Regions from separate parts of the Homo sapiens genome. Here region 1 is linked to region 2. The links come from fine-mapping of genetic effects on gene expression. Tissue or cell type: whole blood. Region 2 holds a variant in brackets; the other region holds the start of a gene. All regions are shown on one strand. Distances are from middle to middle.

Evidence for each region. PIP is the estimated chance that this variant, and not a neighbour inherited with it, causes the effect.
Region 1: GPX1 starts here. The variant in region 2 is fine-mapped to the expression of GPX1 in whole blood (TOPMed, PIP above 0.99).

The regions. Positions count from the first base shown.
Region 1 is chr3:49,355,248-49,360,974 of GRCh38, reverse strand. It overlaps GPX1 (glutathione peroxidase 1), which reads left to right and starts at 2,622. Exons shown (of 2, transcript NM_000581.4): 1 at 2,622-2,948; 2 at 3,228-3,799. The coding sequence starts at 2,697. The coding sequence ends at 3,587. It overlaps RHOA (ras homolog family member A), which reads left to right. Exons shown (of 5, transcript NM_001664.4): 5 at 593-1,830. The coding sequence ends at 766. RefSeq lists enhancers at 1,729-2,337, 2,100-2,429, 2,338-2,946 and a silencer at 2,590-2,649.
Region 2 is chr3:48,470,782-48,478,283 of GRCh38, reverse strand. All of the region lies in intron 3 of SHISA5 (shisa family member 5), which reads left to right. Among named protein-coding and RNA genes, the nearest start is that of TREX1, 8.3 kb to the right of the region's middle. RefSeq lists enhancers at 3,154-4,013, 4,733-4,842, 4,983-5,602, 4,875-5,734. The variant T/A (reference allele first, on the strand shown) is at 3,168.

The DNA of each region.
Region 1 (5,727 bases), 880 kb before region 2:
CAGCCTCCTGAGTAGCTGGGGTTACAGGCGCCCACTACCACACCCAGGTGATTTTTTGTATTTTAGTAAAGAGGGGTTTCACCATGTTGGCCAGGATGGTCTTGATCTCCTAAACTCGTGATCCGCCCAGCTCAGCCTCCCAAAGTGCTGGGATTACAGGTGTGAGCCACCACACCCAGCCAAGTTTAACAGCTTTTGAAAGTCTTTTTTTTTTTTAGGCTGGGTACAGTGGCTCATGCCTGTATCCCAGCACTTTGGGAGGCCGAGGTGGGCAGATCACTTGGTCAGGAGTTCGAGACCAGCCTGGCCAAAATGGTGAAACCCCATCTCTACTAAAAAATTACTTGGGCGTGGTGGTGGGCACCTGTAGTCCCAGCTACTCGGGAGGCTGAGGCGGGAGAATCCCTTGAACCCAGGAGGTGGAGGTTGCAGTCAGCTGAGATCATGCCATTGCCCTCCAGCCTGGGCGACCGACGAGCAAAACTGTCTCAAAAAAAGAAAAAAAAATCTTTTAGATGAATTTGAATACTTTTTACTTACTATATGTATGCCACACTATTAGCTAAAAGGACTATTTTTTTTTCTTTGCTAGGAGCCGGTGAAACCTGAAGAAGGCAGAGATATGGCAAACAGGATTGGCGCTTTTGGGTACATGGAGTGTTCAGCAAAGACCAAAGATGGAGTGAGAGAGGTTTTTGAAATGGCTACGAGAGCTGCTCTGCAAGCTAGACGTGGGAAGAAAAAATCTGGGTGCCTTGTCTTGTGAAACCTTGCTGCAAGCACAGCCCTTATGCGGTTAATTTTGAAGTGCTGTTTATTAATCTTAGTGTATGATTACTGGCCTTTTTCATTTATCTATAATTTACCTAAGATTACAAATCAGAAGTCATCTTGCTACCAGTATTTAGAAGCCAACTATGATTATTAACGATGTCCAACCCGTCTGGCCCACCAGGGTCCTTTTGACACTGCTCTAACAGCCCTCCTCTGCACTCCCACCTGACACACCAGGCGCTAATTCAAGGAATTTCTTAACTTCTTGCTTCTTTCTAGAAAGAGAAACAGTTGGTAACTTTTGTGAATTAGGCTGTAACTACTTTATAACTAACATGTCCTGCCTATTATCTGTCAGCTGCAAGGTACTCTGGTGAGTCACCACTTCAGGGCTTTACTCCGTAACAGATTTTGTTGGCATAGCTCTGGGGTGGGCAGTTTTTTGAAAATGGGCTCAACCAGAAAAGCCCAAGTTCATGCAGCTGTGGCAGAGTTACAGTTCTGTGGTTTCATGTTAGTTACCTTATAGTTACTGTGTAATTAGTGCCACTTAATGTATGTTACCAAAAATAAATATATCTACCCCAGACTAGATGTAGTATTTTTTGTATAATTGGATTTCCTAATACTGTCATCCTCAAAGAAAGTGTATTGGTTTTTTAAAAAAGAAAGTGTATTTGGAAATAAAGTCAGATGGAAAATTCATTTTTTAAATTCCCGTTTTGTCACTTTTTCTGATAAAAGATGGCCATATTACCCCTTTTCGGCCCCATGTATCTCAGTACCCCATGGAGCTGGGCTAAGTAAATAGGAATTGGTTTCACGCCTGAGGCAATTAGACACTTTGGAAGATGGCATAACCTGTCTCACCTGGACTTAAGCATCTGGCTCTAATTCACAGTGCTCTTTTCTCCTCACTGTATCCAGGTTCCCTCCCAGAGGAGCCACCAGTTCTCATGGGTGGCACTCAGTCTCTCTTCTCTCCAGCTGACTAAACTTTTTTTCTGTACCAGTTAATTTTTCCAACTACTAATAGAATAAAGGCAGTTTTCTAAACTTCCTGTATCCTGTTGTTTGTGTTGCTCTCTCCAGGGCTGGGGGTAGGAGGATGCAAGGACTTCCTGGCCTAGCTCACCCTGGAGAGGTTTGTTGAGTGCAAAGGACTAGCTTGTGCCCCACCTCCCACCCACCCAGCAGCTAATCTGGTCCCTCCCAACAACATGGAAATGATTACCCTGTACCGCATTCTGGTTCAGATTTGGGGGTAGGGTGAATGCAGCCTGAGGAGGCCAGGGAGGGAGGACTCCGGCAGCGTTTCCTTGGCCTCGGCGAGCTACTGGGCTCCACTTAAGGAGGCTGGGGCAGAGCTTCCAGGACTCTGCCCGGTTAGAAAACCCGCACGAGGGCGGTGCCGCTTTGGAGACAGGGAGGAGGGAGACCGGAAGCCTAGATCCCTCTGGCTGTCCCCTGCACTGCCGGTAACATGGCACAGGAGAGGAGGGCTGTTTGTGCACGGGCAGCTCCTGCAGCTGCTGCCGTCGCCCACCAGCCTCCTATGCCAAACCCCACATCCTAACTCAGGAACCTCTGAGAAAAAACGGAGCCCTCGAGGGCCCCAGCCCTTGGAAGGGTAACCTGGACCGCTGCCGCCTGGTTGCCTGGGCCAGACCAGACATGCCTGCTGCTCCTTCCGGCTTAGGAGGAGCACGCGTCCCGCTCGGGCGCACTCTCCAGCCTTTTCCTGGCTGAGGAGGGGCCGAGCCCTCCGGGTAGGGCGGGGGCCGGATGAGGCGGGACCCTCAGGCCCGGAAAACTGCCTGTGCCACGTGACCCGCCGCCGGCCAGTTAAAAGGAGGCGCCTGCTGGCCTCCCCTTACAGTGCTTGTTCGGGGCGCTCCGCTGGCTTCTTGGACAATTGCGCCATGTGTGCTGCTCGGCTAGCGGCGGCGGCGGCGGCGGCCCAGTCGGTGTATGCCTTCTCGGCGCGCCCGCTGGCCGGCGGGGAGCCTGTGAGCCTGGGCTCCCTGCGGGGCAAGGTACTACTTATCGAGAATGTGGCGTCCCTCTGAGGCACCACGGTCCGGGACTACACCCAGATGAACGAGCTGCAGCGGCGCCTCGGACCCCGGGGCCTGGTGGTGCTCGGCTTCCCGTGCAACCAGTTTGGGCATCAGGTGCGCCGGGCGGAGCGGGGCGGGGCGGGGGCGGACGTGCAGTAGTGGCTGGGGGCGCCGGCGGTGTGCTGGTGGGTGCCGTCGGCTCCATGCGCGGAGAGTCTGGCTACTCTCTCGTTTCCTTTCTGTTGCTCGTAGCTGCTGAAATTCCTCTCCGCCCTTGGGATTGCGCATGGAGGGCAAAATCCCGGTGACTCATAGAAAATCTCCCTTGTTTGTGGTTAGAACGTTTCTCTCCTCCTCTTGACCCCGGGTTCTAGCTGCCCTTCTCTCCTGTAGGAGAACGCCAAGAACGAAGAGATTCTGAATTCCCTCAAGTACGTCCGGCCTGGTGGTGGGTTCGAGCCCAACTTCATGCTCTTCGAGAAGTGCGAGGTGAACGGTGCGGGGGCGCACCCTCTCTTCGCCTTCCTGCGGGAGGCCCTGCCAGCTCCCAGCGACGACGCCACCGCGCTTATGACCGACCCCAAGCTCATCACCTGGTCTCCGGTGTGTCGCAACGATGTTGCCTGGAACTTTGAGAAGTTCCTGGTGGGCCCTGACGGTGTGCCCCTACGCAGGTACAGCCGCCGCTTCCAGACCATTGACATCGAGCCTGACATCGAAGCCCTGCTGTCTCAAGGGCCCAGCTGTGCCTAGGGCGCCCCTCCTACCCCGGCTGCTTGGCAGTTGCAGTGCTGCTGTCTCGGGGGGGTTTTCATCTATGAGGGTGTTTCCTCTAAACCTACGAGGGAGGAACACCTGATCTTACAGAAAATACCACCTCGAGATGGGTGCTGGTCCTGTTGATCCCAGTCTCTGCCAGACCAAGGCGAGTTTCCCCACTAATAAAGTGCCGGGTGTCAGCAGAACTGTGTGTATGTCCTGTGTCATTGTCATTTGGGAATTCTTTTTCTTTTCTTTTTTTTTTTTTTTTTTTGAGACGGAGTTTTTTGCTCTATTGCCCAGGCTGGAGTGCAGTGGCGCAATCTAGGCTCACTGCAAGCTCCGCCTCCCGGGTTCACGCCATTCTCCTGCCTCAACCTCCTGAGTAGCTGGGACTACAGGTGCCTGCCACCACGCCCGGCTAATTTTTTGTATTTTTAGTAGAGACAGGGTTTCACCGTGTTAGCCAGGATGGTATCGATCTCCTGACCTCGTGATCCACCCGCCTCGGCCTCCCAAAGTGCTGGGATTACAGGTATGAGCCACCGCACCCGGCCTGGCGATACTTTTTCTAACCTCATTGTCATAGTGGTGGGAACTTAATCCTCCTTCCCTTATCCTAGCCAAGTCTGAACTTTCTGTCCTTTTGTCTGCAGCGTGTAGGATCCACTCTTTCCTTTGTGGGAAGTCTGGCTCCTGGCCTGCATTTCTGCCTTCACCAGAACATGCAAAGGGCCATCTCAAGACCCAGTTACAACAAAGTCCTTACTTCAAAAAAGACACAAGGCAATGGTTGACTGCCTAACTCAAATGATAGACTTCTGACTACTTGCTGCACGCTGAAATGACTGTCACAAAATAACATGAGCCCCCACTCACATTTGGAGTCATGGCCTCTCCAATTGTTAGGTCCACACAATCCCATTTTACACGGAAGCTCATGCAATGTTATAAATTCTGTTATCTGGCTAGATCTTTCCATGTTGCTACCAAGTGCCTGTATCTGCTGTGACGATGATCTTACAAGTTTCTGCCTCATATATTCAAGAGTGAGAAAACTATAATTTAACTGGCCCTTCTGACTATGCCCTGCCCAACACTTAACGTGCAATTAATTGCACATTCAGGCCCAGGATAAGGGCTTGTCTTTGAAGCCAGCTGCTGCTTCTCGGGCACCACTCAGGTCCAGCCTCTCCATCTGTTGACCCTGCTGCCAATAATCTTTAATTTTTTTTTTTTTTTTTTTTTTTTTGAGACAGTCTTGCTCTGTTGCGCAGGCTGGAGTGCAGTGGTGTAATCTCGGCTCACTGCAAGCTCCGCCTCCCGGGTTCACGCCATTCTGCCTCAGCCTCCCGAGTAGCTGGGACTACAGGCGCCCGCCACCACGCCCGGCTAATTTTTTTCTGTTTTTTAGTAGACGGGGTTTCACCGTGTTAGCCAGGATGGTCTCGATCTCCTGACCTCGTGATCCACCCGCCTTGGCCTCCCAAAGTGCTGGGATTACAGGCTTGAGCAGCAATAATCTTTCAAGACAGATTTGGAGCCATTTCCTAACGCAGTGCAGGGGACTGCAGGGCCTGGGTGTAGCTTCCGCTTGTGCAAACAGGTACCCAGAGACATGGTAGTGCTGTTCACCCGCTGACTGTGGACCAGAGGTTCTGGAGTCCCAGCATTTGTGTTCAAATTCGTGACTCAAGGTCCTTCTTAGTCTGAACCAACTCTCAAGGACTTTTCCTCTTGCCCTAAGCAGTGATCTTTGCTGCTGCTTTCCCCCTTTGTCTGCCCTTAGGTCACTAAGGATTGTAGGGCCTTCTGGACCTGCTCTGGCTCCATCCTGAGAACTCCTGAACAGGCCCACCTCCCTCTGGTTCTCTCTGCCCCAGCCTTTGAGTCCCCCTTGGGGTGACCCAGGTAGAACTATCAGCTTCCCCTTTGGACCTCACTCTACTTGTGTTGTTCCTTGGAACTCTCAGGAGTCTCACTCTTGCCCAGGCTGGGGTGCAGTGGCATGATCTCAGCTCACTGCAGCCTCCACCTCCCAAGTTTAAGCGATTCTCCTGCCTCAGCCTCCCCAGTGGCTGGGATTACAGGTGCCTACCACCATGCCTGGCTACTTTTTAATATTTTTAGTAGA
Region 2 (7,502 bases):
CAGGGCTCCTGTGCGTGGAGGAGGGGAAGAAGTGCAGCTGTGCCCCTCCTCAACACCTCAGGGCTGGTTGGAGCCTGAGATCTCTACAGGCCTTCCCCTCCACGTCCAGGAGCCCAGGAGCGGCTGTCCTGCCCTGAGGCCCAGGATTGTGGGCTTTCAGATGGCCCCGTGGGAGATGCCTATGCCCAGCCTGTGTGGGCCTGGAGGCAGTCAAGGAGTGGGCCTCGTCCTGAGGACAGTGGGCATCACAGAGGGTTCTGGGAGCGCTGGGGACCGAATGGAGTTTTAGGAAGACCACACTGGCTGCTCTGTGGAAGATGGAAAGAGCAGATGGGGTGGGTGTGGGAGGTGGGAAGTCGTTTCTGTAGGAGGTGGCCTCAGGCGGCTTCCTGGCCAGAGGCGCTGGAGGCCAGAGAGAGCCAGAGAGAGCCAGAGCTTGGTGGCAAGAGGTGAGGATGGAGACTTACATTCAGCAGCTCCCACAAGGCAGGGTGTGGAGGGAGTGGGAAGGAGCAGGGGCTGGACACTGGAGGAGGGCAGGCTTGTGGTGAAGTGCGCTGTGGAATGGAGATTTCACACCACGGAGTCCATGGCACCCTGGGCAAGAGCGAGGCAGTGGAGCAGATTGAAGAGCAGTTGGAAATTGTATGCTGGTCGCAGGCAACTCCTTGGAGAGTTTTAGCCGTGAATGGATGAGGAGTAAGACAGGCATTGAAGCTGGGCACAGTGCCACACTTCTGTAGTCCCAGCTACTTGGGAGGCTGAGGCAGGAGGATCGCTGTAGGCCGGGAGTTCAGGGCTACAGTGAGGTATGATCCTGCCTGGGAATAATCCCTGCACTCCAGCCTGGGCGACCCCGTGTTTTTTGTTTTTTGTTTTTAAAAGGGAGGCCGGGCGTGGTGGCTAATGCTTATAATCCCAGCACTTTGGGAGGCTGAGGTGGACAGATCACCTGAGGCCAGGAGTTCAAGACCAGCCTGGCCAACATGGTGAAACCCTGTCTCTACTAAAAATAACAAAAATTAGCTGGGCGTGTTGGCGGGTGCCTGTAATTCCAGCTACTCTGTAGGCTGAGGCAGGAGAATCACTTGAACCCAGGAGGCAGAGGTTGCAACAACAAAAAAAAGGAGTTGGAGAATCCATGTGAAGGGTTGTTCTGTTTCTTTTTTTTTTTTTTTTCTCAATGTTATAGATTTGAGCTGGGACAACAAGGAGGAGACAGTGCGGAACAAGCTCCCAGAGGGGCATAGGAGGAGGAGTGGCTTCCTGGGGTTGTGGCAGCAGGGAGGTGACTGGGGCCAGCTCAGAGGCACCTCTGACTCCCCAAGGTGTGCATGTGGGACCTGTTCTGTTAGCCCAGCTGCCGCCGTGGTGTGCATAGCACTGGGCCTCGTGTGCCGTGTGCTTGGCGTGCCCTGCTGCCTCCTGCCCCAGGCTATTTTGCCCATGCATCGAGAAGAGCAGGTGACTGGAGTGATGCTCCCCCTCCCGCGCCTCATGTCATCTCTTGTCCTCTGCTTTGTTCTGAGCCCCAGCTCATGCCTAGGACCTGCTTTATAAAGGTGCAGGAGCCAAAGAAGTGGGTGCTGGGAGGAGGGGAGGGGGACAGGGTCATCAATGACTCCTCTCTTTTGAACTCTCTCAGGTGGCTGCCTGTCTGGGTCCCAAGGAGACATCCTCTGCTGGGCATCCATGTGCTGCCTACTTGGCCAAGGGCACTGTTTGTCCACTGGAGAGTTGGCTCCATGTTGAGGGCCTGGCCCCTGCTGTCGAGGCCATGGCCAGGAGCTCAGGAGAAGCCAGGCAGGGGAAAGACCCCAGGCCAGGAGCCCCACCCCAGCTCTGCCCCACTCTCTGCCACTGACCCCTCCTCCTCTCCTTATTTTGGGACCCTTGCCTCTGGCTATCTCCCTCTGGGCTACTTTTTTTTTTTTTTTTTTTTGAGATGGAGTTTCTCTCCTGTTGCCCAGGCTGGAGTGCAGTGGCACAATCTCTGCTCACTGCAACCTCCGCCTCCTGGGTTCAAGCAATTCTCCTGCCTCAGCTTCCTGAGTAGCTGGGATTACAGGTGCCGGCCACCATGCCCGGCTAATTTTTGTATTTTTAGTAGAGATGGGGTTTCACCATGTTGGCCAGACTGGTCTCGAGCTCCTGACCTTGTGATCTGCCCGCCTCAGCCTCCCAAAATGCTGGGATTACAGGCTGAGCCACTGTGCCCGACCTGGGCTACTTTTTGAGTTCCCTAGGCATGAGGCAGCAGGCTGGAGCCTGGATCCAGATGGGCCCACATCTGCCTGGCCCAGAACCCCTGCCGCAGGAGGATGCCACCCATGGCAGGGGTTATAGTGTGGCCCTATTTGTGGGCTCAGGGTTGGCCCAGGTCTTCTGCCCCCTAGACTTTGGCAAGTGAATCTCTGTTTAATGGTGAGTGGCTCCAGCCATTCTTGCCTTATTCACTCCCCAGATAGTCTCCTGGTTGTTTTGGATCCTACTGTCATGTCCTCTTCCCAGCTCCTTGCACTCACAGGACTGTCGGGCAAGACTGTTGGGTTTCTAAGTACCGAATGGCAGAAGCTCTGGCTGCAGACCCCAAGGAGGCCACCACTGACCCTCTGCTGTGACTCCACTGCCACAGTGCAGGGGAAAGGGAGAGAGGCCCATTAGGCGAGGTGTGGCCACAGCCCCGGTGCTACCTCCCAGCCCTCAAAGCGTCCTTTCTGTGGTTCTCAGGCCCTCAAGCCTGTCTGGGGCCTTGCTGACACCAGGGTGGGGGTGCGGGTATCCCAGGTCCAGAGCCAGCCTGTTCACTGTCTAAGGTTTGGAGTCTTCCATTTCTTGGAGGCCGCCGAGTTCTCCCCAGACCCTACAATCCTGCCCAAACTCCCTGCCGGGGTGGCTGCCCCTCTGCCTTCTGCTCCCTCCTGCTTGGGCCGACTCTGCCTTTTGAGCTTGGCCCCAGCCTTGGGAGACCCCATTCCTTCCTCTCGGAGGCGTAGTTCCATTGGTACTGTAGCCACGTGTGGCCTTGTACCCTAGCCCCGCTCTGCAACCACCCCTTGAATGTTGCTTGGTTTTCTAAGGTCACCGTGCCTGGGTGGGGTCTCTGAGTGAATTTATTCATTTACCTGTCCAATATTTATTGATTAATTCACAACATTATGCAAAAA[T/A]TTTTTTTTTATTGAGCACTCACTATATGCTAGGCACTGGAAATATAGTGGTGGCCGAAAGCTGTATTGGATGATAATGGTACAAAGCAGGGGCAAGACGTAGTTGATCAAATGCTCACACACAACAGAGTGTGTGTTTATGAACTGAAGTAGAAAGGAATTTAATTCCGTGCGGGCATGTGCTGAGGGGCCTGGCCTCTTCTGCATGGTGGGGAGGGTGCTCCTGGGGAAGTGACCTGAGGCCTGAGGGGTGAGCAGGAATGAGTTAGGTGTGGCTGAGATGAAAGGAGGAAAGGGCTGAGCTGGCAGGAGTATCTGCATGTGCAAAGGCCTTGAGCAGGACACAGCATGGTGCTTTCAAAGCTGAAAGGAGGGGGATGGGACTCAGCACAGAGGTTGAAGGAGAGGGGGCAGTTCCAGACCACACATGGCTTTGTGGGCCTAATAGGGAGTTTTATTTTATTTAAAATTTTAATTAAAGGCCAGGCACGGTGGCTCAGGCCTGTAATCCCAGCACTTTGGGAGGCCAAGGTGGGCAGATCACCTGAGGTCGGGAGTTCGAGACCAGCCTGGCCAACGTGGTGAAACCCCATCTCTACTAAAAATACACAAATTAGCCAGGTGTGGTGGCACGCACCTGTAGTCCCAGCTTCTCGGGAGGCTGAGGCACGAGAATCACTTGAACCCGGGGAGGCGGAGGCTGCAGTGGGCTGAGATTGCACCATTGCACTCCAGCCTGGGTGACAGAGAAAGACTCTGTCTCAAAAAAAAAAAAATTAAATTAAAAAATAAAATTTTAATTAAAGATTAAAAATTAGCCTGGGCAACACAGTGAGACCCTGTCTCTACAAAAAATAAAAAAATAGCCGAGTGTGGTGGTGCATGCCTGTGGTTCCAGCTACTTGGGGGACTGAGGTGGGAGGATCACTTGAGCCTGGGAGTTTGAGGCTGCAGTGAGCTGTGATCGTGCCACTGCACTCCAGCCTGGGCAACAGAGTGAGACCCTGCCTCAAAAAAATAATAATAATAAAATTTCCTTTATTGTAAATTTCACTGTCTGGTGAGACAAATCCCAGATTTTTCTTTTCTTCCTCTTCTTTTTTTTTTTTTTTTTGAGACAGATTCTCACTCAGTCTCCCAGGCTGGAGAAAGCCTCCTGAGTAGCTGGGATTACAGGTGCGTGCCACCAAGCCTGGCTAATTTTTGTATTTTTTGGTAGGTAAAGAAGGAGTTTTGCCATGTTGCCCAGGCTGGTCTCGAACTCCTGGGCTCAAGCTTCCCAAAAGCCTCGGCCTCCCAAAGTGCTGGGATTGCAGGTGTGAGCCACTGCACATGGCCTCTTTTCTTCTTTTATTGTCAACTATAATACATACACAGGAAAGCACAGACACACTCAGTTTAACATGTAATTATAAAGCAAATTCCTTTGTAATCGCAAGAGCTACAGGAGCCATAGCTGGCGTTTGAGCAGGTGGTGACATGATGGACCTTGCATGGTGGCCCCAGTAGGGTGGCCGGGAGAACATGGGGAGACAGATTGGAGAGAGTGCTGGTGGGAGAGGAGGAGCTAAAGGGACAGGCTGGACTTTGCTCCTTGCATGTGTGTCAGCCAGGGCCCCAGGGTCGCCCTCTGGGCCTAGATGGATGCAGAAGCTCCTCCTGGAGGCTGGTGGAACAGGGCCGGTGGGTTAGGTGGAAGTGGGGGTGGGGGTGCTGCTGAGCTAGAGTGTGGTTGGGGCCCACTGAGGCTGGGGTGGCTCTTAGACCCCCTAGTGGCCAGGCTGCATTCTGAGGTCAGGCCCTGTAGGCTTGGCTCAGGGAGGCAGCTCTGGGAGGCAAATGGGGCACCTCTGCTTCCCCTCCTCCCCGGCCCCCGCCCCTTGGCTCCTTGGCTGCTAGCCGGCTGCTGGGCGGGGCCATCCTGTGTCTTTAAGAGGGTGGAACGGGGCTTCGCGTCTGTGCTTCCTGTGGCTGACGTCATCTGGAGGAGATTTGCTTTCTTTTTCTCCAAAAGGGGAGGAAATTGAAACTGAGTGGCCCACGATGGGAAGAGGGGAAAGCCCAGGGGTACAGGAGGCCTCTGGGTGAAGGCAGAGGCTAACATGGGGTGAGCTTGGGCGCCATGCTGCGTGTGTGTTTGAGAGACAAACACTGAGAGATCTCTGGAGGGATGATAACGGCCTTGCGGTCGCATGTCATTGATGGCGTGTGAATGTGTGTGCGTTTCTCCATTCCTGCCTCTGGTTGGGCCGGAAGACACCTGTAGTCTGCTGGTCCTGTTTTAGGGCCTTGTCCTGGACGGCCTGGGGCTGATGGCTCCTGCTTTGAGAGTCCTGAGGGGTGCTTTTGAGCCTGGAGTCTTTAGCTCTGTCCCTGGGCTGTGCTGTGGGGCCCTGCTGAAGTTGTGCAGTCCCAGGGCGGGGTAGGGTGGGACCCACACCCTCCTTGGGCCTCTGTTGGGCAGAGGCTGCTGGGGGATGCCCTACAGCTAACAAAGCTCCTAGAGTTTTTGGATGTGTTTGATGCAGTTACCAAGCATTTGCCTTTTGTTGGAATAAAGCTTGGGTTGGGCATGGTGGCTGACACCTTTTAAAAAAAACTTATTATTTTTTATTTTTTTGGAGACAGAGTCTCGCTCTGTCACCCAGGCAGGAGTGCAGTGGCGCGATCTCTGCTCACTGCAACCTCCGCCTCATGGGTTCACGTGATTCTTCTGCCTCAGCCTCCCCAGTAGCTGGGACCACAGGCACGTGCCACCACGCCCGGCTAATTCTTTTTTTTTTTGTATTTTAGTAGAGATGGGGTTTCACTATGTTGCCCAGGCTGGTCTCAAATTCCTGACCTCAGGCGATCCGCCTGCCTCGGCCTCCCAAAGTGTTAGGATTACAGGCATGAACCACTGCGCCTGGCCTATTTATTTTATTTTTTAATTTTTTGAGACGGAGTCTCCCACTGTTGCTCAGGCTGGAGTGCAGTGGCACAATCTTAGCTCACTGCAACCTCCCTCCTTGGTTCAAGCGATTCTCCTGCCTCAGCCTCCTGAGTAGCTGGGACTACAGTTTTGCGCCACTACGCCCTGCTAATTTTTGTATTTTTAGTAGAGACAGGGTTTTACCATGTTAGCCAGGGTAGTCTAGAACTCCTGACCTCAAGCGATCCGCCCACTTCGGCCTCTAGAAGTGTTGCCACCGCGCCTGGCCAGTTTTTTATTTTTATTTTTTATTTATTTACTTTTTTGAGATGGAGTTTCGCTTTTGTTGCCTAGGCTGGAGTGCAATGGTGTGATCTTGGCTCACTGCAATCTCTGCCTCCTTGGGTTCAAGAGATTCTCCTGCCTTAGCCTCCCAAGTAGCTGGGATTGCAAGCACCCACCATCATGTCCGGCTAATTTTTTTTATACTTTCTCGAATTCCAGACCTCAGGTGATCCACCTGCCTCGGCCTCCCAAAGTACTGGGATTACAGGTGTGAGCCACCGCACCCAACCGTTTTTTATTTTTTAAAATCTTTTATCATCCAGTACAAAATGTAAGGCTGACTTTTTTTTTTTTTTTTTTTTTTTTGAGACAGAGTCTCACTCTGTCCCCCAGGCTGGAGTGCAGTGGTGCGATCTTGGCTCACTACAACCTCCACCTCCTGGGTTCAAGCGATTCTCCTGCCTCAGCCTCCTGAGTAGTTGGGACTACCGGCTAATTTTTAGTAGAGACGGGGTTTCACCATGTTGACCAAGCTGGTCTCAAACTGCTAACCTTGTGATCCGCCCATCTCGGCCTCCCAAAGTGCTGGGATTACAGGCATGAGCCACCGCACCCTGGCCACGAGACAGTTTTAATCTCAGCACTTTGAGAGGCCGAGGAGGGAAGATTGCTTGAGGCCAGGAGTTGGAAACCAGTTAGGTAACATAGTGAGACCCCTGTCTCTGCAAAAATAAATGTGGTAGTGCATGCCTGTGGTTCCAGCTACTGGGGAGGCTGAGGTGGGAGAATCACTTGAGCCTGGGAGGTGGAGGCTGCAGTGAACTGTGATCATATCACTGCACTCCAGCCTGGGCAACAGAGTGAGACCCTGTCTCAAAAAATAAATTAAAAAAGAAAAAGAATGAAGCTTGGCCTCTGCAAACACGGCAGGGTGGCTAGTAAGGGGCTCTGTCTGCATTTGGAAGTCAGGTTTTTTTTTTTTTCTTTCATTTTTGAGACAGAGTTTTGCTCCTGTCCCCAGGCTGGAGTGCAATGGCGTGATCTTGGCTGAATGCAACCTCTGCCTCTCGGGTTCAAGCGATTCTCCTGCCTCAGCCTCCCAAGTAGCTGGGATTACAGGCACCCGCCACCGTGCCCGA